2 separate regions of the Homo sapiens genome follow, and region 2 is linked to region 1. Evidence: fine-mapped expression QTL. A gene starts in region 1. The other region holds a variant in brackets. All regions are shown on one strand. Distances are between the middles of the regions. Region 1 holds the start of CPLANE1 (ciliogenesis and planar polarity effector complex subunit 1). Region 2 has its middle 37 kb from the start of CPLANE1.

The links. PIP is the estimated chance that this variant, and not a neighbour inherited with it, causes the effect.
Region 2: its variant is the best candidate, but not a certain one, in a credible set for the expression of CPLANE1 in whole blood (TOPMed, PIP 0.81).

Annotation. Positions count from the first base shown.
Region 1 is chr5:37,247,820-37,250,730 of GRCh38, forward strand. It overlaps CPLANE1 (ciliogenesis and planar polarity effector complex subunit 1), which reads right to left and starts at 1,557. Exons shown (of 53, transcript NM_001384732.1): 1 at 1,426-1,557. CPLANE1-AS1 (CPLANE1 antisense RNA 1) reads left to right here and starts at 1,227. Exons shown (of 2, transcript NR_134263.1): 1 at 1,227-1,402; 2 at 2,578-2,827. RefSeq lists silencers at 1,058-1,197, 1,398-1,877.
Region 2 is chr5:37,284,762-37,287,672 of GRCh38, forward strand. No RefSeq gene overlaps it. Among named protein-coding and RNA genes, the nearest start is that of CPLANE1, 37 kb to the left of the region's middle. The variant C/T (reference allele first, on the strand shown) is at 1,180.

The DNA of each region.
Region 1 (2,911 bases):
AAGAGTTTCGTTCTGTTGCCCCAGCTGGAGTGCAGTGATATGATCTCAGCTCACTGCAACCTCCGCCTCCCGGATTCAAGTGATTCTCCTGCGTTAGCCTCCCGAGTAGCTGGGACTACAAGCGTGTGCCACCACGCCTGGCTAATTTTAAGTAGAGATGGGGTTTCACCATGTTGGCCAGGCTGGTCTCAAACTCCTGACTTCAAGTGATCCATCCACTTCGTCCTCCCAAAGTGCTGGGATAACAGGCACGATCCACTGCGCATGGACCACTGAAGATCTTAACTGACAATTTTCATAAAGTTTTGATTTATATTTTATTTCTGAGTTGAAGTTTTGCTCTTGTAGCCCAGGCTGCAGTGCAGTGGCGCGATCTCGGCTCACTGCAACCTCCGCCTCCCGGGTTCAAGCGATTCTCTTGCCTCAGCCTCCCGAGTAGCTGGGATTACAGGCATGCACCACCACACCGGACTAATTTTTTTGTATTTTTAGTAGAAACCGGGTTTCACCATGTTGGCCAGGCTGGTCTCGAACCCCTGACCTTGGGTGATCCGCCCGACTCAGCCTCCCAAAGTGCTGGGATTACAGGCGTGATCCACTGTGCCCGGCCAAATTAGATGGGCTTGTTTTTTTGTTTTTTTAATAAAATAGCTTTAAAAGAAAAACTACTCAGAGACAGCACACAAAGATCTATCAAGATGCTAGCTATCAGTCAGCACGGAGGCTGAGATGGGAAGATCGCTTGAGGACAAGAGAGTTCGAGGCTGCAGTGAGCTGTGATTGTGCCTGTGAGAGCCACTGCACTCCAGCGTGGGCAACGCAGCGAAGACTCCGGCTCAAAAATAAATAAATAAAATTGCAAATAAAATAAATTCTCACAAAAGGGTTAACCAAATGCCAGAGAAACGCCGGCATTAGAAAAGCATCATTTGCAGCTCCTAATGAAATAACAAATCCAGTCAATAGTATCAGCGCTGCTAAAATTATTGAGTGAAAAAATACTGGGAACTTTATGCACTGACATACCCTAAATCCATTAGTCAATCTTAAAATTGCTAAGAGCGAGGAAAATTGACGTTCTATTCCTCCGGATCCTGCTCGAGAAGCTGGGGGACTCGGGTCCGGTGCCGAGGTGTGGCCCGAGCCTGGCACCACCCACGCCGGCCGGGTGACCCCGGCCCCTTGGGGCTCCCGCGCTCCGTCAGCAGGCGACGCTGGGAGGCTGGGGTAGGCCCAGAGCGAGGACGGGCCCGGACTGGGTAGTGGGGATGTACCAGGGCCGGGTGCGGCGGGAGACGGCCCGGGAGGCGGAAGGTCGCGGACCTGCCCGACAGAAGAGTAGATGAGGGGAGACCGAGGACGCCCGGGTCCGGGGAGCTTACGAGGAGGCCAGGATCGCGGGGTAAGGAATCCGCGGGCAGTTACCTCCGCCAGGGGCAGGGTCCGGCCAGTCAGGCGCGAGAAGGCTAGGCGAGGCCGACTGCGCGGGGTGAAGACGCCAGGCCGACAGCTGCGGGCCCTACCGCCAGCCCTGACGCGAGCCTGCGTCCTGGCGACGGCGGAGGGCGGGCAGGGGGCGCGGGCGCTGCCACGGCGCCTGCTCAGAACCGGCCGGGAACGCCGCGGGCGGGTCTCCCCGGTCCTCCGCCCCTCCAGCCCTGCTCTCAGGCCTCCGCCCGGGCCCTCTAAGCTGCCAGCCGCGCCCGCCTCCGGGCTCCTCGCCCCTCCTCCCGCGCGCTCCCCTCCTCAGCGGCCGCCGGACCCCCTCAGTTCACTTCTCCCAGTTAACGCGTTCCTCGGACGCTGCTAGTTTGAGCGCACAGGCATTGGGCGGGGCTCACGGGGGAGCCGCTTAATAACCGACCAACATGAAACTCAAGGGCTGCCCCTTCCTAGCGGGGACCCTGCACAGACCCGAAAATAAGGGGTTTTGCTCTGCCCTCCTCAGTTCACGTGGGCACCTTGGAACACTGAAGAAGGCATTTTCCGAACTCACTGTCCTACGGACTTATTCTCCGCACTGTTTTCGCCTCCTTCGCCCTGTTCTCGTGACTGACAGGAGCAGGGGTCACAAGCAGGCAGCCCGAGAGCTCTGCTCACCTGGAAAAGCATTTTTGTGTAGCTTAAATGTGAAGGCCTCAGGCAGTGGCCTGTTGTCCTCCTCCACATGCGCCCATCTTCACTCTTTCATGTGACTGGCCTGTTTTTGAAGGCAGGACCCTGTCACCCTTGGCTAGGCCAGGTATGTTCTGCACCGAAAATGGCCCTGCCCTCTGCATTGGATGGCTAGCTCTTAGGTTGGTTTATTTTAGCAAATAAGCGTTACAGGGTAGGCGAACTGGCTGCATCAGAACCACAATTACCCCTGTGTCTCTGGGTGGGATAAATGGCGGATGGCATTCTGGCAGCTCAGCCCCACTTATCTCAGAGGTTATAGATCTGAGGTGGTTTAGATCCACCCCCAAATCACGAACATTTTACATAAGCCGTGCTAGAGTTAGCATAAAAGTCTCACAGAAAAATTTGGAAACTGAGAAATCCTAACCTATTCCCACAATCCTGTGTTCCCATTTTTAGGTCTTAAGATATGAAGACAATGGGATAACTGAGGCTGATTTTGCTGTGTGGCCATTAGACCTAGAAATATTGGTGTGATTCTGGAGTTGATTGCTCCACACGTTTATTTATTTATTTTCCTTTTTTTCCCTCCTCTTCCTCCTCCTCTATTCTTTAAAAACGTATGGAAATGTATCCGGCAATGTTTACTGTAAAAAATAATGTATGGAAATGACTACAATTTGCTAAAATAAAAATCATTGAGCACTTATGTGTGTCAGACACTATGCTAGGTATAAAGAGGGGAAGATGGTGTCCCTATTCAAAAGAGAGTCACACACACTTAAGTTACAGT
Region 2 (2,911 bases), 37 kb after region 1:
AGAATCGCTTGAACCTAGGAGGTGGAGATTACAGTGAGCCAGGATCATGCCACTGCACTCCAGCCTGGGTGAGAGTGAGATTCCATCTCAAAATAAATACATAAATAAATTAAAATATCCAATTTAAATTATGCAATTAATTAAAGAATCATCTATTTAATGTCATGACTTCAGGAAAATTTTCAATTTAACATGAAGTGATTTATTTTGTAGGATCCTCTGAATGATGGCATCTCAGAAATATGGGCTTACTCATGATTTTTTGTTTTGGTGAATGGTTAAAAACAACAAAAGACGGCCAGGCACGGTGGCTCAAGCCTGTAATCCCAGCACTTTGGGATGCCGAGGTCAGGAGTTCAAGACCAGCCTGGCCAACAAGGTGAAACCCCATCTCTACTAAAAATACAAAAATTAGCCAGGTGTGGTGGTGGACGCCTGTAATCCCAGCTACAGGGAGCTGAGGCGGAGGTCGCAGTGAGCCGAGATCGCGCCATTCCACCCCAGCCTGGGGGACAGGAGCAAGACTTCATCTCAAAAACAACAACAAAAGAAAAATGTTTATATATCCATATTACGTATACACACACACACACAAACCACAATGGTCCCTAAGTATATGATAACAAATTCTAATTGAGTAATGACTACGGAAATTACCCTCGACATCTAGAAAAGCTGTTCTCTAATGCCAAGGAAATAATATGCCATCGTATCAAACATTCTTTTCCGATAAGGGAAGCAACCACAGAAAGCTTTCATTTGTTGAAAGTAACCAGTGCTATTGATGCAAACAAAACAAAATCCCAATGACTCTCCCCAAACTACTTTTATTTATTTTTGTTTGAGTCAGGGTCTCAATCTGTCACCCGGACTGGAGTGCAGTGGCATGATCTCGGCTCACGGCAACCACTGCCTCTCGGTTTCAAGCTATCCTCTTGCCCCAGCCTCCCAAGTGACTGGATTACAGGCATGTACTACCACACCTGGCTAATTTTTTTTTTTCTTCCCGAGATGGAGTCTCGCTGTGTCACCTGGGCTGGAGTGCAGTGGCATGATCTCGGCTCACTGCAAATTCCACTTCCTGGGTTCAAGCGATTCTCCTGCCTCAGCCTCCTGAGTAGCTGGGATTACAGGTGCCCACCACCACACCTGGCTAATTTTCATATTTGTCGGTAGAGA[C/T]GGGGTTTCACTATGTTGGCCAGGCTAGTCTTGAACTCCTGACCTCAGGTGATCTGCCTGCCTCGGTCTCCTAAAGTGCTGGGATTACAGGTGTGAGCCGTTGTGCCTGGCCTAATTTTTGTACTTTTAGTAGAGAGAGTTTCACCATGTTGATGAGGCAGGTCATGAACCCAAATTACTTTTTTTTTTTTTTTGAGATGGACTTTCGCTCTTGTTGCCCAGGCTGGAGTGCAATGGCACGATCTCGGCTCACTGCAACTTCTGCCTCCTGGGTTCAAGTGATTCTCCTGCCTCAGCCTCCCAAGTAGCTGGGATTACAGGCATGCACCACCACACCTGGCTAATTTTGTATTTTTAGTAGAGATGGGGTTTCTCCATATTGGTCAGATTGGTCTCGAACTCCCGACCTCAGGTGATCCACCTTGGCCTCTCAAAGTGCTGGGATTACAGATGTGAGCCACCGTGCCCAGCCATAACCCGAACTACTTTCAAAATGAACATATCAAACTTGATTTTTATTAGAATGCAGCTATTTCTTCACATTAGTAAAGCAAAAAGCAAGAGCCCGGTTTTATATACACTTCATGTTTTGTTCTTTTGCTAACACCAAGTCTGCTTTATCTGAATTTTCCATTTCATGAGTATCATCAATTCTCCACTGCTGTCTGCATAGCCAATTATTTTTTTCAGGATCAAGGTCTCTTGGTTTGTCTGCAGTATCTCTTTCCTTGATTTTATGTTATCCAACTGTCAGGTAAATATTTTCTTCTTGTATCATCTTTTTCTTTAACAGCTTTTTTGAGAATTAAATGTTCCAAGTAACTCTTGACAAGCTTAAGTTTCTTCAGGTTCCCAAGTACTTTCAGCATCTATAAATCCCTTCCACATCAGGAAATGCACTACCTTACCATTCATCACACATTGATCCAGTACTTTTTCCACTACAAATTCTTCAGGCTCTGCATCAATTTTTTTTTTGGAGATGGAGTTTCGCTCTTGTTGCCCAGGCTGGAATGTAGTGGCGCGATCTTGGCTAACCACAACCTCCGACTCCCAGGTTCAAGCAAATCTCCTGCCTCAGCCTCCTGAGTAGCTGGGATTATAGGCATGCACCACCACACTCAGCTCATTTTCGTATTTTTAGTAGAAACAGGGTTTCTCCATGTTGATCAGACTGGTCTCGATCTCCCAACCTCAGGTGATCTGCCTGCCTCGGCCTCCCAAAGTGCTGGGATTACAGGCGTAAGCCACTGTGCCCGGCCCCAACTTTTTTATTCTATTGTTTCCTTTCCATTTTTTTGCTCACCACCTCATATTGCTCTGGGTTGAAGGTCTGCCGTGTCTCCAGCCCTGCATGCCTCAAGCTCAAGCTGCGTCTCAAGGGCTAAATTTAGATTTTAAAAAGACCACTCTGTCCTTGGTGTGGAAACAGAGATGGAGAGGTCAAAGTAGAGGCAGGAAGACCACTTTGACACTGTTTTAAGCATCCAAGTGAAACAGAGTAACTTTAATCCACCCTGAAAGCCTAAAGTAATGAGACAATTGGGCAGATATGGGGGATATCAAGTAGACTTGCTTAAAAACTGGTTTTGAAGGGAGGACAATGTAATGATTTTCATATTTTCTATTTGAGACAATAAAGAGGTAGAAAACAAGGAAGAACAGCAAGAGTGGGCAGAGGGCAGAGAGGGATGAGTTCAGGTTTGGTTGTTTTGACAGAGGTGCTTTAGGG